Homo sapiens: one gene and its partners. The protein of the gene in region 5 purifies or fractionates together with the protein of the main gene of each other region. This does not show direct contact. Each region holds a gene or a part of one and is shown on either strand. Other genes may lie near its edges. The genes, in order: CEP295, KIDINS220, PKP4, CHERP, FGFR2, UBE4A and RPS6KA3.

Region 1 (3,500 bases), on a different chromosome or scaffold from region 5:
AAGACATTCAGAAACACTGCCTTATCCCAAACACCTTTATTGGCTTGGGTAATGTATTTTTCTAAAATAATGCCTTTTAGTGAAACAAGAATATAATCACCCAGATCTTAGTTTATAAGTACCACTTCTCCACTAAAAAGAATCAGGGGTCTTTGGAGATACCAGATACGGGACAGAGTAAATTAAGCCTAGGTCATTTGCTGGGGCACAGAGCAAGGAAATGCTCATGGAGTCACGGGGACGCAAGAAACAACTTCAAGTCTCCTGCTGACCAAATTTCAGATATTACGAACATCAGTGAGAAGAAAAAGAATGACTATAATTGACTATGTAATATTGAGTAAAAAACCCCCACAAGTTAACAGTGATAGTAACAAAAGAGAAAGGAAAAAAAAACCCATTTACCACCAATGGCATTGATTATTACCCCAACCCTTTACTCTGAAAACTGGCAGAGAGGAAAAACAAGGAATATATCCTGTTTTCCTAAAAGGAACGAGGCTGGGTGCAGTGGCTCACATCTGTAATCCTAGCACTTTGGGAGGCAGAGGTGGGTGGATCATCTGAGGTCAGGAGTTCGAGACCAGCCTGGCCAACATGGTGAAACCCCGTCTCTACTAAAAACAGAAAAATTAGCGGGGCATGGTGGCAGATGCCTATAATCCCAGCTACCTAGGAGGCTGAGGTGGGAGGATCGCTGGAACCCAGGAGGTAGAGGCTGCAGTGAGCCAAGATTGCACCACTGCACTCCAGCCTGGGTGACAGAGCAAGACTCTGCCTCAAAAGAAAAAAAGAACTAAATAGTTCATGCCCACTGATTAATTCATGCTTGTCAAAGCACTTACAGAGTTTTGTTTACTTTTTATAAATTTTTGACTTTGGCTTGTTATAAATACTAAGAATTAAGACAAAAATAATCAAAAGGCATCATGGATAATACATTGCCTGGCTTTTATCATGTCACTTTGTACCGAAGGAGTGACTGAAATACAACTTTTCCGTCTGAATTTTGTTGGATCAAATGTTACATGGTAGATGGCTCAACGTACAAGCAGGAAGGCTGACAAACTGAAAGGCCTAAGAAGTGAGTATCTGGTACTTATGCTTATACAGAATATACTTGTATGTACAACTATGTATTTCTGGGTTTACTTCTACTTCATTCTTCAGATAAAAATAACTAGGTAATTTTGACAATCATCCAAATAGCCATTTCAATAACTATAACAAGCTAATGTGGAGAACAAGTATTTTAAAAAATTTCTGCTTTAATTACATTTTTTTAAAAAAAATAAGCTTCAAATCACAAAAGCACACATTTTACTCCCATAAAAAATAGATCCTTATTATTTTATAATATTTTTTTCCTCTTTTCTTTTTTAAAATCACACCTGGATACTTTATAATCTTATGTAAATTTATTAACTTAACTGAAACTTATCTGTAAAATATTGACCATTTAAAATAAGCCAAATTCAGAGTGTGGGAAAGCCTAATGGACGAATAGTTTAGTTTTTTCCCCCAATAAATAAATAAAGGGTATTTTTTCAAAAGGCAGAATTATTAAAAGATTTTTCAAAACCAAAACCATTATAGTTTTCCAAACAACAAAATTTTTTTGACATCATTGAGGAAGGCTGAACAAATACTGGGTATTAAATAATATTGGAAACAATATTAGTATTATACTAAGAAAAAAGTCCTTATACATCAGAGATACATACTAAAGTATTTACAGGTGAAATGATATCTAGAATTATTTTAACATACTCCAGATATACTCCTGTACAAGTTTTTAATTGTACAAGAAAACTTGTACAATTAAGTTTAAGTGATAGTCATTCTGACCTCCACTGAATTATAATAGTAAAGAAGAATTATGACCTAGTTCCTCTTAATACTCAAACTCACCTCAAAAAGAGTTGGAGGAGGAGGTGGCAGACTTGTAATTTTGGCTGATCTCTCTTTTTCCACAAGCAGTGCTTCCTTTCGAGCTTTTATATGCCTTAAGAAACAAGAGATGTCATCAATTAATCTCTCAGTGATAATATTATAGTACAACAGGGTTAAAAATATGTAAGTCATAGGCTCAAGAAATCCTCTAGTCTGATTCCACAGGCTCAGTAAGCTTTACATGTGTAAAGAGTCTATACATATGTTAAGAAAATGTTTACAAATTGAGAGAGGCCTATCTAAAGACAGAAAGCTCTATGGTGGGGACCAACCCAAGAAACTTATAATGTTCTTTAGAGTGAAAAAAAAAAAAACAGAAATGTTGTTAAAAATGGCTGTTGCTAACTAGTAACAGGGCCCTTAATTTTTTACTTTGCTTCACTCACGTTTCCTGTGAATGGCCCTTTAATTTTTACAACATGCAAAAAATACTAATGACTTCCAGAGTCTACAACCTCTTTTAATGTTCTTAATCACATCAATTTTTATTTCATGTTTACATCGGAAACAGACATTGGTTGACATGCATTCTGAAGTAGCCATATATTTTTTCAGAAACTTAGTAACTGCTGCTAAACTCAACTCAAACTACAACTAGAAAAGAAAGCTCATTAGTTACTATGTTCACCTAAGCAAATCATTCCCTGTCCCCAACATTATTTTTAAATCAAGTTTAACAAATGCAATGAATATGCTACTATGTTTATTTAATATTTGCTTACACAGTATCCTATGTATCCTCTACTTTCAACCATGTTAGTTTCAGTTGAGATTATAGTAAAAATTATTACTTTACCAGGTTTTTTGTTTCAGTAATATTTCTTTTTGATTTTTCTGTACTTTCAAGGCTTCTTTATGCCTCAAATCTGCTTTTCTTTTCCTTTCTGCTGCCCGCTGTGCCAAAGCATCCAAATCAGGTTCCTAAAAATATATATTACTTAAAATGTCATGTTAAACAAGAATAATAGAAATGTGTCTCATATGATATCAGAAGTGATTTATCAATTTTGTCATCTTCTTTCTACATACTATAGCAGTGTTTCCCAGAGCATGACAACAGTACCACTGATGATATGCCATATTAGGGGGGACAAACACAAACATTTTAATGTAAAGTTAATGCAATCAATTAACATTATTACAAAAATATAAATAGGATATCGAACTACTTAGGACATGGTTAAAGTACGTAAAATATATAGTGATATGGGTAGTTTCCCAGTCAGGGCAAAAATTGTGAACATGGTATTCAAATAACAGAGGTTTGGGAAACATTGCATTAGGCACAAACTTAATGTGGCATGCATAAAACCACAAAAACCTGAGTCAGAACTTACGGCTATTACTAAAAACACAGACTAAAACCAAGGACCATGAAACAGATTGCCACAGTCTTAAGATATTTTCTTTCTCACTAGTTGTTATCAAAGATTTACCTTCTTTGTAACTAGCTTGTTTACTGTATGTGACTGATTCTGGGACTGTAGTATTTCCACATCATAAATCACAATAAATCAAAATAATGGGGCAGACTTACTGTGACTTTC
Region 2 (3,500 bases), on a different chromosome or scaffold from region 5:
TATTCAAGGAACTTACGCCTTCTAAGGCTTTTAAAGCCATTGTAAAGATGCAAATACACAATTCCTACGGAAAGCTTTGCTCTCCACTGAGCAGAGTGAAAACTCAGTAAGTTCAATTCTTGATTATGATGAGGGCATGCAGATTCTTCACAATCTGGCCCCATCTTACCATTCCAGCCTTATCTTTCTCCCCTCCTCAGCCCCATCCCTCCCACCCTCTACATAGTCACATCTACACCTCCAGCTCCAGCCAGACTGATCTACTTGCAGCTCCTTCACTGCCCCACACTTTGTTCTTTCCAGACCTTTGCACTTAATGCCCCCTCTGCTTAGAAAGTCCATTCTCCACGTATATATGCCTGAACAGCTCCTACCCATCCTTAAGAACATGGCTCTAACAGATCTTCTGGAAGCCTTCATTGACTGGCTGCTTACCCCAAGCTGGGCCAGGCCCTGGGCTCCTCCACACCTGTGTATACATCTAGTTGTAGACTGCTCACATCACACTCAACTCTCCTCTCCATTTTACTCACTCTCTCCACATCTCCCTTAGACTAGAAGTTCTTGCAGCAGGATCTGCTTTATATCTAGCACAATGCCTACACAACAGGAGGTGAGAGAGAAAAGCAGCCCCTGACTGTCGGGAACTGACCCGGCACACACAGCCAGACTTGGTGTTCTAACATAAATGCAACAATTTCAAAGAATGCCAACATCAAACAAGGTCACTCTGTCACCAGGATATGAAGACAAAAATAAGACTACTCTGGAATCATATCTGAACATAGACAAAAACATGAACATCACCCAAACCACAAAATGCCCAAACATCTTCCTATCGTGGCTAATATGAAGCATTGCTGCTTCTTTATCAATTACAGCTTTAGCCTTACTCCATACCTCTTGCCTTTTCGTTAAGATTTTAAATATCCAATTGCAGAATTCCCACTCCTCCTTATTCCTGAAGCACCCGAGACTGAGCAAAGCTTTGCTTCCTTGAACTCTTCCCCGAATCACCTAACATCATCTCGAATCTTCTAAGTCCTTTCTAACAACCTGTTACAGAGACCCCCAACGTTCCCTAGGACAGGCATTCTCCTTCATTGCAGGGAGTTAATAAGACCAACTTTGTTCAACTAGAGGTATGTTCCTGGCAGTCTTTGACTAGAGGGCACTGACAGTGTTTAATAAATTTCACTGAATAATTGATTATTAAATGTCATAAGATGTTTGTAAGCACATATATAAGTGCCTAGAAATTACAAAATAAAATTAGAACATTAAATCCACATCTGTTGATACACACAATAGTAAAACCAATGACACGCTGTCATGTTTAAGAGCACGTGTGTAGTATAATTCTACTTGATAAAATAAATAAGACCCCCATATATGTATCTATCCAGTGTGTACACATGAACAAAAAGAAAAGTGTGGAAGGACACACACCTGGCTGTAAAATTCGTTATCTTACCATGTAGGACTAAAAGGAGGAGATGATTAGCTTTGCCTTCACGCGTCTTTGTGCTATATTGTTTTACTTGATGTATTAAGTCTACGTTCATTTTCAATAGAAAAAAAAATGTTTCATCACAGGAGGAAAACTACAGCTTCTCATCTTTCACATTTCAGTTCAACGTTCACTTCCAAAAGCCCTTTCGGCTTAAAACGAAGCTGTCTAGTGGTCAAAAGTATGGACCCTAGAGCCAGACTACCTTGGTTTGACTCCTGACTTTACTACTGACCATTATATCATCCCAGGCTAGTTTCTTTTTTTTTTCCTTAATTTTTTTAACTAATACATAATAATTGTACATGTTTATGGGGTATGTGTAATATTTGGATTACATGCATAGGATGTGTGATGATCAAATCAGAGTATTTAGGATATCCATCACCTCAAACTTTTCTCATTTCTTGGTGCTGGGAACATCTCAAATCTTATCTTCTAGCTACTTTAAAATATACCATAAAAAATAAAATACACAATAAACTGTTAAGCATAGTACCATGCTGCTGAACACTACAGCTTACTCCTTCTACCTAACTGTATGTCTGTACTTATTAACCAGCCTCTCTTTATCACTCCCTGTCCCCTGGGGTAGTTTCTTCACCTCAGTGTCTGAGTTTCCCCATCTTCAAATAACTGCACAATTACATGCAATGGGATTAAAATAATACCTAACCCATATGAAGCCAATAAATATTAGCTGTTTTACATAATAACAGAATATGATCATTTCTTAACCACCCTTTCTTGGTTGATTCTCATAACCTGGATTGTTCTCTATTATGGAATCTTTTTTATTCCTTCATAACACTTTACTAAACTTGTAATTTACATATTTATGTTTTTTAAATTTGTCTTTTTTTTTTTTTTTTTTAGCTACACCTGCTGGAATGGGACATATTTACCTGATTAATAGCTGTCTCTCCCACTAGGATATAAGCTTTTAAAAGGAATGAATTATTTTCTTTCGTTCTATACCAAATACCCAACACTTAGCTTAATAGCTGGCCCATACAAGACACTATATTTCTTGAATAAATGGACATCAGTTGAATCTAATGTCCACAGCACTTTCTCTCTAATGGGAATATAAGGCTATACATTCTTTTGCACAATTAGCAAAAAAATTAATGTCTTGCCACCCGTTTTGAAAATGGCAGATGTAGCCAACAGCAATGTCAGAACAAAAAATTTATGTTGTAGTAAGTCCATTTTTAGAACTTGCCAATTTAATAGGCAAAATCTCTAAATGTATTCAAAATGCTTTCACCAAAAGGCCAATCGGTTAATAGACGCACCCTATAACTTTTCTCCGGTTACAGACACAGTGCATGAAAGCAACAATAGTGCCATGCTGCCCAAGGCTTACTTATTTCTTATCCTCCAGATACGACACAGTAAGTTCCTGAATGTGGCCCCTCCCATGGTTCTCTATCTCCAGCCCCTCTTCTCCTCCTCCCACTTAAGTCTCCAGCAACAATCACCCCTGTGCAGTCCCCAGAGCCTACCCTGGTGCTGACATTCCTGGGCCTGGGTGGCAGCGCTTGCCCCCTCCACACAGAGGCCTAAGTGGTCCTCCTGAATCGTGTCTTCTTACAACCATTCTGTGCTCAAAACATCCCAACGGTTGTCCTCTCACTCAAAATCCCAGATCCCTACCAGGGCCAAGGCCTTGCTTGATCTATTCCACCCCTTCTCCACCTCCCTAAGCTCAACTCTTGCTGCTCCTTCTCCTTGACTCTACTCAGGCCACAGTGACTTTCTGTACATACGTCACCTGATCAGAGCTTCTCTGACCACCGTGTATAAATGGTGTATACCATTTATACGTGTATAAAACAGCCCTCTCCCCCTCTACTATATCCCCCTTCCACAGCCCTACTTTAAAGGTCTTCTTTATAACACCTAGCATCACTCCACATACCACATACTTTGTTTTTGGTCTGCTTCCCCTAGCCAAACAAATGTAGCTCAATGAGAATAAAGACTA
Region 3 (3,500 bases), on a different chromosome or scaffold from region 5:
ACTTCTGTCTTAACTCTTCAACTGAGTATACAAAGATATTACTGATTCACAAAAGGTACAGATACAGAAAGTTTGCTCAATATCACACTTTCAAAGCTTAGCTTAGTCTTGGTGCTTGATTGGTGCCTATTAGTAGTATGATAAAGAGCATTATGAAAACTCATCTCACTATGGTTATAATCCAGGCAATTAAGTTTAAAATGAATATGAACCAATCTGTTTAAAATCTTCTAATTAATTTCTTTTTGAAATGGAGTTTCGCTCTGTCACCCAGGCTGGAGTGCAGTGGTGCAATCTCTGCCCACTGCAACCTCTGCCTCACGGGTTCACGTGATTCTCTCACCTCAGCCTCCCAAGTAGCTGGGACTACAGGCGCCCGCCACCACGCCTGGCTAATTTTTTTTTTTTTGTATTTTTAGTAGAGATGGGGTTTCACCATGTTGTCCAGGCTGGTCTTGAACTCCTAATCTCAAGTGATCCACCTGCCTCAGCCTCCCAAAGTGCTGGGATTACAGGTGTGAGCCACTGCACCCAGCCGTTAATTTCTTTACTAAGGAATTTGGTATAATGAATTATTTATCTAGCAAGTTGTATTAGAAAAGCATTTTTTTAAAGTCTAAATAGTTTTTTCCTTTGAAACATGCAGGATAAATGGTATCAGGGTCTCAGACCAGTTTACAAAAGGACAGAGGATAGGTACTAGGCACAAACAGACACGATTATCCAAGAGTAGCAGGTGAAGGTGTTCAAAACTAGAATTCAAACTCATTCATTCACTTAAGGTATGTAGAACCACTGGAGGTCAAGATTTAAGTCCTGTAGAAAGATAAAGTCCCTGCTGTTGAGTAGCTTAGAGCAGGACTATTTTCCCATGGAACTGATATACTATAGTTACACTACAGGACGGGAGATTTATGGATTAATGTTGCTTCTGTGAAAAATTATATTCACAGTTCTAAATAATATTTTGGAAGACTGACACTTGCCGATATACTATCCGAAGATTTCAGACTGACACTTATTTTTCATCTGTTGACAGTCTGAATTAGACCTTTAACATCTGAGTTGTTTATCACAGGTCTCAGACTAATAGTATTAATAGTTCTTGTGAAGTCCAGTTGGATTTTGTGATTCCTTAGTCAGTGCCTTTTTTAAACAGACTTACTGCTTATGTAGTTGTCGACAAAATGACAGTAAGTGAAAAATTCCCATCAGTGCATCATTCTGAGATTCAAAGTAAGATTCAATGAGACCATTTATTCTAGCATACATCACGAGAGATTTTGAAACATTCTGTTTATTCATAACAATGGGAGGGAATATTTTCAACAGCAAGTTTGGGCTTATAAAGGCACACAAATTACATAGAGAATAAAAGAAAAGCACAAAACACAATAAACGAAAATACTGCTGCATGAAAAATAAAAATAAGAATGTAATAAAATGGCAGGTCTTACAGCATAAATTATGGTTTCTCATAAATCATGTATTGTCATTATGATTAATTATTTCACATAGGCTATATGGTAAAGTGTTTCAAGAGATACAGCCAAAATAATCAAGTTCATGATTAAAACTTATTTTGAAATCACTATTTATCTTTGGTGCAGACTTTTCCCAAAGAAAGCTAATGAGAGTGGTTAGTGCATATCTCTAGAATCGGGTAATTTATCATGTAATACACAATTAAGCAAGTAGAAGTATGAGCTACAACCTAGTTATTTTATAGCTCATCCTTAATACTTATGAAACAATGTTACATGCTTATTTATATACCAACATTTCTAGGACAATCTTCTCTACCTCATGTGTCTTATCTTTCCCAACCAGACTGAAAAATGTATCATGGATTCCTTAAAGACCGAGACTCCCATTACTGAATCTAACACAGACAGTAAGTATCCCTGGAGGAAGTCATCTTTTTGGCCATAAGGCCTATCAGTCTGATATGGAGTAGGGGACTAAAAAATGTTGGTTAAAATGAACTAAAATGAATCATTTCAAATAAGTAGTATCGTTTTAAATAAGTATGCAAAATGAAACACAATACTGCACACACAGCAGGACTCCAACAAATATCTAAAGTACTAATTGTCTACAGTCCCCTCACTTGCACCCCTAGTGGTATACAGGAATAAAGTTACCTTTAATTCATCAAACAGTCCCTGTTTCCCACTCAACTCAGGGTACAGGTGTCAGAACACATGATCCATTTCACTGCAAAGTGGTAAATAATGGTTTCTATTTTACATGAGTGTTTACAATTCTCATGAAGGTATGGGAACAACAGCCAGTTCTTCAAGGGTTTATTTTGATCGTGACATTGACAATTCATTTAATACTGCATACAATAGTAGTATAATTAATGCTTCCCTTTGCAAATAATGTGCTTATTGCATTAGCAAAGGGGAAGAGCTAACCTCAATATTTTTAAACAATTGTTTTATAGATAAATACATACTAGAGTTCTATACGGATTTTTTTTCTCCACAAAGGAAGAGAACAGGGTCTAGGAGAAACTTTCATCACTGAATTTTTAAATTACTTTTTATAGAAGAGCACAAATCCAAGTAAAAAATTCTCCTCATGAAATCTGCCACAATTTCTGAACACTGGTAGATTGTCTATATGTAAAAATTAGACTTGAATGAAAAGTCCCTCTATTCTATGAGATATGGATTGACGAGTTCCCTATGAACCTAAAGTATTCATACAAAATGTTTTCAGAGGAGCAACTCTGTCAGTTGTTTAACTTCTCTGAGGACAAATCAAACCATCTGAGCAAGTAAGAAGTGGATCTTTCTCACTGTAACAAGACTAGTCCCTTCTAACCACCATGCTAAATCCCCTTTCTTGTTTCTATCCAACTTCTGAAAAATGTAGTCTCAATCAGAGGTGAAGCCTCCAATGTGCACAGGGGACTGGTTGTAGACAAGTAAGTCCCAGAAGTCAGGGCTGTGACAAACTGCAGATGTGCAGCTCCATAAAGGCTCACTGCTCAGCTCCTGCCCCGAGGGGCCCCAGGGATCCTCACTCCTGGAGCACTTCACCACTACCGCACAAGACACGGAGCCACTGACTCAGCCACAGAGGGGTCACAGGTTTGTCTGGCTGCGACACATATTTTCAGGAGCTGAGAATTTCAAGTATACAACTTCAATTTTCCCTCCTTATCCCAGAGGGTAAATTGTCATAAATCCTTGGGAAGACAGCATATTCTTGCTGAGGAAAAAATGTAATGGCTTGATGTTCTAAGAGTTGCGAAATGTAAGTACTAGAGGGACTCTAGAGAGCATCTAGACCAACTCCCTCATTTTATAGACAAGAAAACTAAAGCCCACGAGAGTTACATGATGTGCTCATGGGACACACACCTGCATAGTGGCAAAGCCAGGACTAGAACTAGAGCCTCTTGATATCTATTTAACCACTGTCTGTTGATTTATATCATGTATATTCCAAACCCCCTTCCTCTTTTCTAGCCTTTCTTGATTTGGGAG
Region 4 (3,500 bases), on a different chromosome or scaffold from region 5:
GCGGAAGGGTGGCTCGCGCTGGCCCCCGCCCCAGGGCGGCTGCTCGTGCTGGCTGTTCCAGGGGCCCTCGAACTGGCTGTTCCAGGCGGCGTCGGGCTGGTTGTTCCAGGGCGCGTCGCGCTGGCCGTTCCAGCCGGGGTCACCGCGCTGCTCGCCCCACATGCCCTCATGGCTGTTGTTCCAGGGGGGGCAGTGGGGTGGGCCGCCCTGGTGGTGCGGGTAGGGTGGCTGCTCTGGCGGCTGCAAGGGAAGGGACAGGCTTGAGCCCTGCGTGGTCTAGGCCCTAGTGCTCGGCAGCATCACAGCGCTCGGCAGCATCACAGCGCTGGCTCAGACCATGGAGGCGCTGCCCTGGCCACGTTGAGGCGCCTCCTACGCTGACGCCTGCGAGGATGCTGGGCACCTGCTCTCAGCCCGCACCACATGCTGCTGCAAAATGACCAGACACCCAACCGCTGCACCCGCATCTCAGTCCCGGGGCTGTTTCTGCCGCTGGGGCGCGCTGCACCCGCACACAGGCCGCCCGCGCCACAAGGTGCTCCCCGCTACCACTGCCAGACAAACGCCAGCTCCCTCGCCCCTCAGGGGCAGGTGCAGAGGCACAGACGGTATCGCTTCTCAGGGCACCCCAGGCACCCATGGGGCGGGGCTCACTCTGACACCCCCTGCCCTGCCTCACTCCCCCTCTCCCCAAAAGCCGTCTGCTGGGCAGATACACTGCGGCACACACATCCTTGTCCTGGGGTCTGCTTCTGGGGACTTTCAAACCAAGCCAGCATCTTCCTGTAGACTGAAGACGGGAGGCTCTTCCCTCATCAGCTTCTGCTCTGGAGACTTAAAGCCAGGAGGGCAAACTCCAGCTTGGGCAGGGGAGGGGAGGAGCACAGAGGCCAATGAGAAGGCCGGTGTCTAGGGTCACAGCTGGGTAACTGCGCTGACCCCTACTAAGGGGAGGCTGGCCCAGGCTGCCACATTCACCAGGCTTCCAAGAGAAGCCAGAGAGCCAGATATTAAATATCAGGAACTACTTGTTTTTCTTTTTCTTAATTTGAGACAGTCTCGCTCTGTTGCCCAGGCTGGAGTGCAGTGGCGCGATCTTGGCTCACTGCAACTTCCACCTCCCGGGTTCAGGTGATTCTCCTGCCTCAGCTTCTCGAGTAGCTGGGATTATAGGCGCCTGGCACCATGCCCGGCTATTTTTTTATCTTTAGTAGAGGCGAGGTTTCACCACGTTGGCCAGGCTGGTCTCAAACTCCTGACCTCAAATGATCTGCCCACCTCAGCCTCCCAAAGTGTGGGATTACAGGCGTTAGCCACCACGCCCAGCCTTGCTTTTCTTTTTTAGAGACAAGGTCTCACTCTGTCACCCAGGCTGGAATGCAGTGGCATGACCATAGCTCAATGAAGCCTGAAGTCCTGGCTGAACCAATCTTCCTGCCTCAGACCACTGTGTAGCTGGGACGACAGGTGTGCACCACCATGCCAGCTTATTTTTATTCTTTGTAGAGATGGAGTCTTGCCTTGTTGCCCAGGCTGGTCCCAAACTCCTGGCCTCAAGCAATCTTCCTGCCTTGAGAAATTACTTTTAAACGTGTTAAGACCCCACATGGCCAAGTCAAGCAGGCCAGGCTGCTGTTTCTCAGTGTGGACTGCAGGATGCACTGCTGGCCTAGCGGGCACCCTCAGTGAGGGGCGTGCCCATTGTCCTGAGCCCAACCCTCTGGTCTGCAAAAAGACTGAGCCTGGAGACACTAAGGGCCTGTTTCCACACCTACAAAACAGGGACAAGAACTGCCCCCCCCAGCAGAGGGTACCTGCAAAACAGCCACCACCATCTGGCTCCTGGCCAGCACTTGGAGGTGGGAGCTGTCTTTATGGGGGTGTCCAATCTTTTGTGAGGTTCAATTTCGTGTCCTGAAGCTGGGGATGGGAGGCTCAAAGCCACAACCACCAAGTCTCAGTCCAGAGCCAGTCTCCTTGCCATCCTTACACCTGTCCCTGCAGACAGGGAGTCACCTGGAAAGGCCACGCTGCGAAGCCAACCAGGCCCCACGGGCAAGGGGGAAAGTCACGCCCTGGAAGACCCGGGGCTGTGCCTCAGTGCTGAAAGTGGACCCAGCACGCTGCAGGGCATTTCACAGCCATGCTGTGCCACATAAGGTGGCCCCTGCCTTGGCCCAGGGGTATGTGACCCATAGCAAAGCTGCATCTGAGGCCTCCCAGGGGCAACACGGCTGACATTTCTGACATTCCCCCTTTCCTTACAAAAGCACCTTGTTCTTTCCAGGATGACAAAACACTGACACTCAACTAGCTTAACCTGTTTAAGGAGGACAGGAAACAGAACACCCTGCCGTGCCTTGCAGCGTTAAACTCCCCTGCACTCGCAGGACAATGGTGATCTATACTACAGAGAAGCCCAAACCATCAAAGCTCGGGGAAGGGACGTGAAGACCTGTCACTTGACCTGTCCCGGAGCCACAGGAAGACAGGGCTGTCACTAACCCAGCATAAGCTCTGCCACAGAATATCCCTCATTGTTCCCCAGTAAGCCACTCAACGCCCACCAACTGGCATAGGGGAGGCTACCCCATCAGGCCAAGTGTGCCCCATCTGCTCCCACCCCAGGTTCCAATCAATACCTGCTGCTGGCCCCAAGGAGCCACGGGGTGAGGCTGGTCAAACCAAGGGGGCTTGTTTGGTGGGATCTGGTCGTGTGGCCCGGGGCCCCGGGGGCCGGCAGCTGCAGGATCCTGGACCCCTCCTGGAGCTTCGTACTCTGAAGAGCCAGGCATCTGGATGGGAGGCTTGCTGTCATCTAAATCCAAGTGACAGGCAGTTAGAGCAGGCCTGGCAGCAGGAGGCGCTGTCTCCTCTCCACACTACCCCAGAGCAAACCAGGCTACCGCTTTTAGTGCCCAGTGGATGATCGCTTCAGGACCCACTAAAACCATGACTATCACTGGCTTCCAGGAAGGGGACAGGGCGAGGGGAGGTTTCGACCTTGAACATGACACACATCTGTCCTTTTCAAAGCTTTACAAGAAACAGGCCTCACTTCTGCCTTCTTGGTTTGCTGAAGAATTTCTATCCACACTGAATTTGATTAGACATCTTTACTGTATCTAATTAAAAGGTCATTTCCCCACATCTGTTATTTTCTATTCTATACAATCCTCATATTCCTACAACAAATCTTCTTTGATCAGAATGTAATTTTAAAATCCTTTGCTAGGCCGGGTGCGGTGGCTCACGCCTGTAATCCCAGCACTTTGGGAGGCTGAGGTGGGTGGATCCCAAGGTCAGGAGATCGAGACCATCCTGGCTAACACGGTGAAACCCCGTCTCTACTAAAAATACAAAAAAGTAGCTGGGCATGGTTGCGTGCGCCTGTAGTCCTAGCTACTCAGGAGGCTGAGGTAGGAGAATGGCGTGAACCCAGGAAGCGGAGCTTGCAGTGAGCTGAGATCACGCCACTGCACTCCAGCCTGGGCGACAGA
Region 5 (3,500 bases):
GTACACACACACACACTGCACACATACTTTTCTTGCTTTTGCTGTGAATCACACCGTTTCACCTGTGCTATCTTTGAAGCAGAGGTTTTCTTTATTCCTCCTTTGGAAATGATGTGGCATATTCTTTTCCCTCCTCCATTTTTGTCCTCAGTCAAAGCTAAAAGGAGCAGTTTTTATGATGAGATTTGGGGAGGCTCCAGCAGTGTTGAAATCCTATGACATAACTTGAAACATCGAGTGGGTACATAAAAAATGTAGAGTTTAGAGATTTTTGTATTAAAGGCCTCCCTGCCACCCCCAGTCTTAGAAAATGTGGTTCATTCCTGTGGTTCACAGAATCTGAAGCCTGAGATTGATGAGCCCCTTCTTGTGATTGTTTTAATCATTCTCTAAAGTTTGTGCATTTTACTGTACCCTTAGTCACAGAGAGTACTGAGTGAATTTAAAGTTGCTTGGAATATATTAAGCTTTCTTGGAAAATTCTCTTTCCCTTGGATCAAATGGGTGAACAGAATATTAAGTTGAGTGTCCTCTTCTAACTTATACTCTGAAAATTTAGCCAGTAGGTTTGCATATGGAAAGTTATTGGTCCAATCACATACCATGACTATAATTTACATAATTTACATCATCATTATTAATAAATTCCTGCATTATTCATCAGAATTTGCATCTGCTCAGTTTCCTCACCCTTCTACAGAGGTTGAAGACATTTAGCAGCCCTGGACTGCCATTTAGTCACAGGGGAAGGGAATTCAGGCTTCGAAGTCCTTTTTGGATCAGCTGCGTTGAATGCGCTGCAGTTGTGTTCACTCTTCGTAAGTGGCTGCTTGGCGGAAGACTGAAAGACACTTCTCCATTTGAAAATGAATCCTGACAAGTGTAAACTGGTGGGAATTTTCTGTAGCCTTCCTGGGATTCTTTTGATTTTGCTGGTCTCCTTTCTTCCCAAGAGCGACAGTGAGGGTGGGAGACTGCTCACCTCCAGCCCAGCAGAAATACGGAGCTGTGAGCAGACTCCTCCAACAGTTTAGCTTTCTAAAGCCCAGTTGGACTAAGAGAAGGGAACGAGGTTGGTTATGCCAACCCGAGCATTTTTAACTTGCTTTTGTAGTTGCCCTTGAAACTAAGGTCACGTTGCTTCTGCTCATTGAGGGCGGTGGAGGCGATAGTGGATAGTAGAAGAGAGCACACATTGCCTCACTGAAGTGGCTGCACGTATCTGAGTCCTGTAGCTACTGTTTTATCTCTGTTTCTTAAAAGTATGCTTTTAAAAAGATTAGCCTCACACATTTCTGTGGACCGGTCTGGTGGTATCACCTGGGACTCTGAGGTGAGGATGGAAGGATTTAGCAGATAATGAAAAAGAACTCTGTTTGCGCACATTTGAGAGGCTGAAAAATGGTTTTATCCCACTTGGGCTGGAGTGATTTGGCATTGGGGAAGATTCCCTGACTCGCCAATCTCTTTCCTTTAGTGACTGCAGCAGCAGCGGCAGCGCCTCGGTTCCTGAGCCCACCGCAGGCTGAAGGCATTGCGCGTAGTCCATGCCCGTAGAGGAAGTGTGCAGATGGGATTAACGTCCACATGGAGATATGGAAGAGGACCGGGGATTGGTACCGTAACCATGGTCAGCTGGGGTCGTTTCATCTGCCTGGTCGTGGTCACCATGGCAACCTTGTCCCTGGCCCGGCCCTCCTTCAGTTTAGTTGAGGATACCACATTAGAGCCAGAAGGTAAGTCATTTAATTTCACTTTTCAGGTTTGTTTTGGGATTTGTCTGGGGGCAGATTGTTAAGGCCTGTTTTAGAATCAGCTACCCTTGCATTGTAAATGGGGCTTCTAAGAGCACCAGATCGTGGTCTCTTGGCTCCCGGCAAGGCAGAGCTGATGAGAGAAGGTCCTTTGCCGCAGCACTGCAGGCAGGATGGTATAGTTTGGTGGTTTCTTGCTGTGTGTGTTTCTCTGTGCTGGGTGAGGGAGACAGCTGGGAGTTGGCCTTTATCCAGTGCCCGAGAGAGCTGTGGAAGGGATGAACCTTGGGAGGATGAATGTCATCTCTAGTCTCCCCCAGCATCATTCCTACTGCTTACAATGTAAAGAATTGCTATTTTCGGACAAGATGAACCACTAAAAGAAATTGCCAACATCTGAAATGCTGACATCTTATTTTCATTGTTTAAGGAGAAAAGAAGTTTCTGAAGTTTAGCACAGAGAGAGAGGCTTGACATCTCAGAATTTTTTTTTAGCCATTGTAATTCATAATACTTAAGCAATGCATCATCACAGAGTGGCAGATTCTAGTTTAGGTAAACTTGAAAGTGAATGTGCCAGGGGATCTCCTCCAGCTCCGAGAACCTCCAAGTATCACAGGGCATGCGCCGGTGTCACAGCTTTGGAAATTTAATTTTCAAGGTGTAAGTCCAATTACGAGGACTACATGAGGCTGAATTATTCAGCTTAGCAGATTTGGAACCTCTCTCCCAGCCCTTTGGAGACAACGTGAGCCAAGCCTCTACTTGGTGCTGCACTGAAATCTGTCATCAGTAGGGAATATTGGTAGCTGAGTTATTTTTCGAGTGGTAATCCGAGAATAAAACGGCAGATCCCAGCACTCATCGCCACTTAATGAACCTGTTTGTGGAGAGTCCACCTGGTGCCTGCCTGGCTTTAGGAACCCGCAGCAGTCCGAGTGGTGTCTGGGGTAAGCTGAGCTGCTCTGGGAACACATCTCGTGCGTGGGGTGAATGAACAGCACACTTACCCAGTGGGGTAGGCTGGGAGAGGACAGAGAGCCCAGCCTCCTTAGCTGGATCAGGACAGTTTAGGAAGGAGGGTTGCGTCCATCTGAGATGAGAGTTCTGAGAGACATGGGCTCCCCAGGAAGACCCCAGGCACTTGTCATTGAAGGATGAGGACCGAAGCACTTATCACCTGAAGCAATCGTGTGAGACTGGGGAACTTTTCGTTACACAGAGGGATGGCAGCTCTATAATTAACAGGTGTGGTGACATCTCCCTGCGTCTCTGGGAAGGGAATCTGGTAGGAGTTTGTGTCTGAGGCTTGTATAGCTACAGCTACAGGCCGATTATGGAACTGCCTCTTGGTGATTTGTGCTGGGACACCAGGATGAGTGTAATTTGCAGTGGTGATGCATTTTTACAGGGCTTTCATGTAAGAGGGAAAAAGTTCCTGGTTTCTGAAAGTCATGCCTGTACGTCTTTAATTTTGCTAATAATTAAAATGGATGTTTCCGTGATTGCTGGTTTTCCCTTGAGTGCGTGGCTCGGCAAAAACTGAGGAAGCTGAGCTGGGATTTCCTACGGTGTGGGCTTTAGGAGCAACCCAGGTTAGGGAAAAACTGTCATTTTTCATTTTGGCTTTTCAGGGCAGCGTTATTGTGAGTTTATTTCAACATAAAGTGTAAAATGGTCCCAGAGGATTTGTTTTACTGTATTTAATTCTTGAAGGAAGTTTAAAATTGTGTATACATGCAGGGA
Region 6 (3,500 bases), on a different chromosome or scaffold from region 5:
AGCAGAATTCAGCCGCATAGCTAATTTTTGCTAAGGGCACACATTAGGAACGTAAGAATATTACCTGCTCAACATTGCTCATATCAAGCCAGTCTTGATCTTCTAGCTCTACTGCCATTTCTTCCAAATACACACAACGGCTAGGGATGCCATTCCCGCTTTTCAAGCTGGGATCACCTGGGAAATGGTTTTAATATGATAGGTTAAGGATAATGCTTCTGTTTTATACAGACAACTGATCTTGACAGCATCACTCTTGAACTGCAAATCTGACTCAAGTAATACCAGAATGATCCTGATACACAAAGCAACATCTAAAGATTCAAATCTTTTTTTTTCCCCCTCTAGTCACAGAGAATGGGATTTGTTATAAACCTAGCATCATGACATTTAAAGAGTAAATCCCAGACATTAGTACCAACCTTGGGGTTTAAACACAGACAGGGCACAGAGGGCAAACACTCTCTGATGCCTCTGAAGGCTTCCATCTGAATATTTAGGTTACCTCTGAGAAGAAAATGGGTTTGGCTACCCTTCCCATTTCCTTTTTAAGGTAGTAAAGGCAAGTAGCTATATAGTGCAGTCAGTATTGAAATGGGAACAAAAGTTAGATCTGCATCTAAATACTGTTTTTAGGTCATACCAAAAGGTTCACTGAAATATAAACCCTGAGTTCCAGGGAGTGCAGTGAGTAGGTTTGTATCTAACCATTAGCTGTAACCAGTTTCAAAGAGCAAGCCCCTAGCCCAAGCTCAAATAGGAAGGGTAGAATAATGCTATAAGTTTGTAACTCACTGTTGTCCAGAGTAATAAGGAAGATCCTTTGGATCATGTGATTGATGTTGAGTTGCTCACATATTTCCTGCTGTGATCGGAATGAGCGGCTAATCTCAGCCACAGAGTAATCGAATTCATCCAGGCTCTCTGACACGCTATTATCCGAGTCATCTGGGCTAGCTGGGAGTTCATCTGCCAGAAAATGTATACTGTTAAATGTTACACCCCTTTAAGAGAGAACCAAGCATGCTACCAAAAATAATAAATGTAACCAAGAAGATGATAATTTCAGATGTAAAACAAGCTAATCATCTAATTAGTGAACATCTCAAGTCAGGGAAGTTAAATATAGGGTTTTGAAATTCCTGGCTATAAATCCTACCACATTTTACAAAGCAAAAGTTTTATTTCTATCCATAATTATACTCCACACTGCCAGAAATAGCAAAGTTATCTTCTCTACAGAATCCTAGTGAACAAAGAATTACCTAATAGATCAAAATGCCTTTAATTATTTTAAATGTATGGCTTTTCTCCCTGATTTTAAGAGATAACATTTGTTTTAATAGTTCTTAACTGTACAGAAAAATATAGTATAGAAAGTCTCCTGAACCAATTCCCTAAAGACACTTAACAGTGTTCAAGAATTTTTTTCTTTTCTGGTGCTAATATTCATTACTATCTTTTTAATTTTTTTAAAAAATGGGATACTATACATAGCTCTTTTCAGCTTGCCTTTTAATCAGCACCAACACCTTTCCCTGTTAGGCCATTTAGAGGCCTACCTCACTATTTTTAATAGCTGTATTGTATCACATCTTTTGCATGCCCTGTGGTTTATGTAGCTACTTTTCAACTGATGAACAATAGGGTTGTTTCTAATATTTCATGATTTTAAATACTGCACTGAATACAATACAACTTAACTCTTTTTGTTTACTTGTATGAGTATTTCTATAGGATAAATTCACAGTAGCAGAACTGCTGGATCAAAGAGCTTGAACATTTAAAAAGTTAACATTTACTGCCTGGCACGGTGGCTCACACCTGTAATCCCAGCACTTTGGGAGGCTGAGGCAGGCGGATCACGAGGTCAGGAGATTGAGACCATCCTGGCTAACATGGTGAAACCCCATCCCTACTAATACAAAAAATTAGCCAGGCGTGGTGGCACACACCTGTAGTCCCAGCTACTCGGGAGGCTGAGGCAGGAGAATTGCTTAAACCCGGGAGGCAGAGGTTGCACTGCACTCCAGCCTCGGTGACAGAGCAAGACTTCGTCTCAAAAAAAAAAAAAAAAAAAAGTTAACATTTACTACCAAGTTACCCTCAAAGAGACTGTCTGATTTACATGCAAACCCAACAGTATATGAGAGAGTGCCTGTTTGAATCTTCACAAATTTCATAGGTAAAAAAACAATTTAATGGTTGTTTTAATTGGCACTTCTCTAATGATTGATGAGAATAAATTTTTTAATCATTTGGTTATAAGTTGCATGTCACATCTTTTGTACCTTTTTATTCTTTCTTGTTATTTTTTTCTTATTGATGAAATTCCTTCGATTTTTTTTTTTTTAAACTTCTGTCCTCAAAATCTGCTCCCATCCTTTGATTTTTTTTTTTGAGATGGACTCTCACTCTGTCGCCCAGGCTGGAGTGCAGTGGTGTGATCTCGGCTCACCGCAACCTCTACCTCCCAGGTTCAAGTGATTCTCCTGCCTCAGCCAAGTAGCTGGGACTACAGGCGCCCACCACCACGCCCGGCTAATTTTTGTATTTTTAGTAGAGATGGGGTTTCACCATGTTGGCCAGGCTGGTCTCAAACTCCTGACCTCAGGTGATCCGCCCACCTTGGCCTCCCAGAGTGCTGGGATTATAGGCGCCTGTCATCATGCCCGACTAATTTTTGTGTTTTTAGTAGAGACGGGGTTTTGTCATGTTGGCCAGGCTGGTCTCGAACTCCTGACCTCCGGTGATCTGCCCACCTAGGCCTCCCAAGGAGCTGGGATTACAGGCGCGAGCCACTGCGCCCAGCCCCATCATTCATGTTGAATGACTACATAAAAGTAGTGTTATTCACTATATGCCACATATGAGTCTATATGTACTTTTCTCTATTGACAGAATGGCTAGTCTGAAAGTCCAGGTAAAACTCTCAAAGTAAGAGTTGTTTCAGTGTGGTGAGTATAAGCTCAACATAGGAAGCCAAAGGTTTTGGCAAAGTACTAATTGCTAGTGGAAACAGGTTGGACCTGGTGGCATGATAAACTCAGTGTAAACAAACTAGGATGATGAGGTGCCAAAATAGTAACAGAAGGGCATGTGCCTGCAATGCTCCCAACTCTAGCCAGATTTATGTCTGTTTATAGCCAGAAGGACAAGCGTTCTGTTGCTCAGCTGCTATACTGTTGAGTTTTTCTCTGACCTCCAATGGTGACAGAAGCTAAGAATCTGTTTAGCAAAATTTCCCTCAACCACATACTCATAAATCATACTTTCTCATTCCTTATTTTTCCTATTTTTCACTCTGCTTTTTCCCCTACAATCTTCTAAACCAGAGTTTCCCATTCTGGCCCCGTATCATAGAAATCTGGGAGAGATTTCAGAGACTGAAAATACCATGTTAAAAAAAATCAACATTGATTTTGTTTTTCCCTTGCATCAATCACTTATCTGTCTTGCCTTTACCTCTTTTTTCTTCAGCCCTTTCTAACTGAAAGGCC
Region 7 (3,500 bases), on a different chromosome or scaffold from region 5:
TGTGAACAAACTTTCCTTTCTTCCTTCTTCCACATATATTCTTCACAATGTTGTTTTTTCCCTTTAAAGACAATACTGAGGAAGGGATCAATGCAAAAAGGGTAAGATTAAAGAGATTTCTGTTCCCCTTGCCCTTTCAATTACGTTCAGATATTACCATGACTATTTAAACTGATCAATCAAATAAATCACTTTTAATTGCTTTGCTGGATTCTAAAAAATTACCCCAGAGGAAAAACAAAGAACTGAGACAGTTCTTTAAGAGGGATGATTCATTGTAACTATTGTTTATTAAAAACTTAAACCATGTACTGAACCAAGTACTTTACATATATTATCATTTCATTTAATTCTCACCAAAACTCTATGAGGTAGACATTATTTTCATCCCTATTTTACAAATTAGGATGTTGAAGTATAGAGATATTAAATATAACTTGCATAGGGTTACAAAGTTATTAAGTGGCAGAGCCAGGACTCAAACACAGGTCTTTATGGCTCCAGAGCTTATGTTCTTTAACACTTTGCTATTAATCCAAATAACCCCACAAAGTCCCTTCTAAGTTTTAAGAATGAGCAAAAACCAAATTACTTAATTACTAGTAACTAATGTATTTGCTTAAAATAGGTCACATGACAAAAAGACAAATACTGCATGTTCTTACTCACACGTGGGACTCATAGGTAGGGAGTTTCTACTCAGAATGAGAGTTACTAGAGGATAGGACGAGTGTGGGGGTTACAGAGGGGGTGGGGGTGAAGAAAGGTTGGTTAATGGGCACAGTACATACAATTGGATAGAAGGAATAAGTTCTAACAATGGATAGCAGAGTAGAGTAGGGTGACTATAGTTAATAACAATGTTTTATATATTTCAGAATAGTTAAAAGAGAGGATTTGAAATGTTCCCAACACACAGAAATGATTAATGGATATCCCAAATACCCTGATGTGATCATTACACATTCTATGCATGGAACAAAATATCACATGACCCCATAAAAATGTACAAATATTATTTATCAATTGAAAAGTAAACATTTTGGTGTGCCAAAGTTTATCTTTCAACAGTTTGTTTAACCAAAGAGACAACTTCCTCCTATGTTTCTGTACATTAGGGATTAATAAATATTGGCTTTTAAATTGTACAACTTGATAAACTGTCAAAAAATAAATAGGCCAAATGTATTAAAATAATCATAATGTGCTATATGGATACATTTTATCCTGAACCTGTTTTATAAAACACATACACACACAGACACACACACATTTGCGTTTGTTTTGCTAAATCATGACAAAACTTAATGATTAAATATGGTAGTTTTTACTGAACGATTAAATAGGGTAGTTTTTCTTTGTTTTAATGCTTTTTGGTGTTTAACTGATAAACTAGAATATCTGAGATCTGATATCTCCAGGTTAATGATACAGGTCACTGTATTAATTCCAAAAGAACACACTGATGGGAGTGGGGTGGAAGGAAGACATTGAATGCTAGGTATTACAATTTAGATACTTGTTTTTTTCTATTTATGTGAATTGGGGAACGGGATGTATAATATATGTACTTGCACAGCTGCATTTCAATGCTTTAAAATGTGTTATCCACCAAAGCACATAAACAACTGAGCACTATCACACGCAGGCATTACCAGTGAGACCACCACCATGTCAGTGTGTCATTCATTATAATCTGAACCGTTGGGTCTAAAGCACCCATTCTGCACTGGGTCAACCAGGCAAGTGTGACCTTACCCATCATTCACAGCCTGGCAGATCACATGTCCCTGAGCATTGAACTGTAGAGCAAATCTTGTTAATTATCACAATGGTATGAATTTCTTAGTAATAAAAATTTTTAAAAACTTTAGGACAATTGTTCTGCAACTCAGACTTCTAGATAAGTGATCTGTATTTTTGGTCATTCTATAATTTAGCAAATGTCAAGTCCTTGGTCAGGAGTACACAGTCCAATTATGCCACCTGTCTTATTAAAAATAAGATATACTTATTGTGGTTTCCAGAAATGTATACTAAAGAGAAGACAAAGTCTGCCTATATTTGCTCCTGCAATTAGATAAAAGTTTTATTAATAAAATTTAAATGCATCCAGCAAGTTTCACATTTTGAATCTACCCCATTACTACAGGATCAAGCTGCCAAAATAAAGCAAAGTTTTCTAGATTTTACAAAACTGACATCCTCTATCATAATCACTGAAAACAATGAAGTGTTCAGTAATGGGTCACAGTTACTTGACAGTTGACATGTAACAATACCTGTCCTCTCCTCAGATCTTCACTTAGGGGAAAGAAAAAAACCTGAAAGGTGGTAAAAATAAAACAGGAAAAGGAAAAGAAACAATAAAACATTTTTTTTCAAAATCAATGATTATACTTTAATAGAGCATTTTCCCTATAGATAAAATAAGAAACCTATATAATATTGATATAGTAGAAATACTATAAAATCTATGTACTATACTATAGAATACTACATAATCTTTGAGGTTAAAAATGGCTGCACATTCACTAAACATGATCTCCCACACAAAGGCCTCATTTTCTATAATAAAATACTTATATAGTTGATTTTTTAAATATTTTTCAGTGCATCATGGGTACCTGTTATTTAAAGGAAGTCGAGGTAGCTATTTTCATACAACACATTGTTTAATACACATTGTATACAACACATTATATTGTGGCTATTTTATATAACACATTTCTATAAAACAAAAATAACCTCCATAATTTTATCATTTTGAAAACTTCATATTTAGATTTACTATCATTTATACCTACTCTATTGCAGTGGAGAAAAAAGTATCACTCTAGGTCAGGCTTATGATCCACTAAATGCTGTCTCTGACAGCACTGGCAAAGAATTTGTACAACAGAAGAGCCATAATTCCTACCTATCCATCCTCTAAACAGTCAAATATTCAAAAGCATATTAGCATCTTTAAGTAACTCACTAAAGAGTTCACCTAGACCAGTTAGGAAGCTAGTTTGTTTTTTATCTTGTACCAACCCTTACTTTGCTTACATAGTACTTCCTTTATTATCCTAAATTTGCTTCTTTAAACATTTGGCCTAGTTCTAGCCTATCATGTTCTGACCCACGTTTGAGTTTAACCACAAGGGTTTTTTTGTTTTGAACACCATGAGATTCGTGTGAGGTCTTAAAGCAGGAAGGCCAGTGTAAAGGAACTGAAGAAACTGCCTGTGTTTTTACTGAGGCACTGAGGTCTTTTTAAATTGTTCATATTTTAATGAGATTAAAATGATAAAAAACAGATAAGATTCATAATCATCCTATTCCTGACTTTCATGATTCATTCAGCAGATATTTATTAAGTCCACAATATGTCAGGGCCAGGCATTGTGCTGAATGCTGAGGATTCAGAGAGGGGGGGAAAAATGTCTGCTTTCAAGAATTCACAGTGTACTAGGGATGAGACCATAAATGTAAACTCCTACACAGACCAATCCTGA

What was found.
Region 1: the proteins of FGFR2 (region 5) and CEP295 purify together in Homo sapiens (affinity purification with mass spectrometry; 2 studies listed by BioGRID and IntAct, with this or other methods). This does not show direct contact.
Region 2: the proteins of FGFR2 (region 5) and KIDINS220 purify together in Homo sapiens (affinity purification with mass spectrometry; 2 studies listed by BioGRID and IntAct, with this or other methods). This does not show direct contact.
Region 3: the proteins of FGFR2 (region 5) and PKP4 purify together in Homo sapiens (affinity purification with mass spectrometry; 2 studies listed by BioGRID and IntAct, with this or other methods). This does not show direct contact.
Region 4: the proteins of FGFR2 (region 5) and CHERP purify together in Homo sapiens (affinity purification with mass spectrometry; 2 studies listed by BioGRID and IntAct, with this or other methods). This does not show direct contact.
Region 6: the proteins of FGFR2 (region 5) and UBE4A purify together in Homo sapiens (affinity purification with mass spectrometry; 2 studies listed by BioGRID and IntAct, with this or other methods). This does not show direct contact.
Region 7: the proteins of FGFR2 (region 5) and RPS6KA3 purify together in Homo sapiens (affinity purification with mass spectrometry; 4 studies listed by BioGRID and IntAct, with this or other methods). This does not show direct contact.

What each region holds. Positions count from the first base shown.
Region 1 is NC_000011.10:93,668,182-93,671,681, reverse strand, and holds part of CEP295 (centrosomal protein of 295 kDa), read right to left. Parts: intron 2,875-3,500; coding exon 2,750-2,874; intron 2,006-2,749; coding exon 1,912-2,005; intron 1-1,911. UniProt on the Homo sapiens protein: Centriole-enriched microtubule-binding protein involved in centriole biogenesis.
Region 2 is NC_000002.12:8,831,114-8,834,613, forward strand, and holds part of KIDINS220 (kinase D-interacting substrate of 220 kDa), read right to left. Parts: intron 1-3,500. UniProt on the Homo sapiens protein: Promotes a prolonged MAP-kinase signaling by neurotrophins through activation of a Rap1-dependent mechanism. Provides a docking site for the CRKL-C3G complex, resulting in Rap1-dependent sustained ERK activation.
Region 3 is NC_000002.12:158,463,452-158,466,951, reverse strand, and holds part of PKP4 (plakophilin-4), read right to left. Parts: intron 1-3,500. UniProt on the Homo sapiens protein: Plays a role as a regulator of Rho activity during cytokinesis. May play a role in junctional plaques.
Region 4 is NC_000019.10:16,525,438-16,528,937, forward strand, and holds part of CHERP (calcium homeostasis endoplasmic reticulum protein), read right to left. Parts: intron 2,819-3,500; coding exon 2,643-2,818; intron 241-2,642; coding exon 1-240. UniProt on the Homo sapiens protein: Involved in calcium homeostasis, growth and proliferation.
Region 5 is NC_000010.11:121,591,945-121,595,444, reverse strand, and holds part of FGFR2 (fibroblast growth factor receptor 2 isoform 1 precursor), read left to right. Parts: intron 1-1,186; exon of another isoform or gene 1,187-1,477; 5' UTR 1,478-1,570; coding exon of another isoform or gene 1,571-1,627; coding exon 1,628-1,736; intron 1,737-3,500. UniProt on the Homo sapiens protein: Tyrosine-protein kinase that acts as a cell-surface receptor for fibroblast growth factors and plays an essential role in the regulation of cell proliferation, differentiation, migration and apoptosis, and in the regulation of embryonic development.
Region 6 is NC_000011.10:118,366,100-118,369,599, reverse strand, and holds part of UBE4A (ubiquitin conjugation factor E4 A), read right to left. Parts: intron 970-3,500; coding exon 796-969; intron 178-795; coding exon 65-177; intron 1-64.
Region 7 is NC_000023.11:20,260,410-20,263,909, forward strand, and holds part of RPS6KA3 (ribosomal protein S6 kinase alpha-3), read right to left. Parts: intron 1-3,500. UniProt on the Homo sapiens protein: Serine/threonine-protein kinase that acts downstream of ERK (MAPK1/ERK2 and MAPK3/ERK1) signaling and mediates mitogenic and stress-induced activation of the transcription factors CREB1, ETV1/ER81 and NR4A1/NUR77, regulates translation through RPS6 and EIF4B phosphorylation, and mediates cellular proliferation, survival, and differentiation by modulating mTOR signaling and repressing pro-apoptotic function of BAD and DAPK1.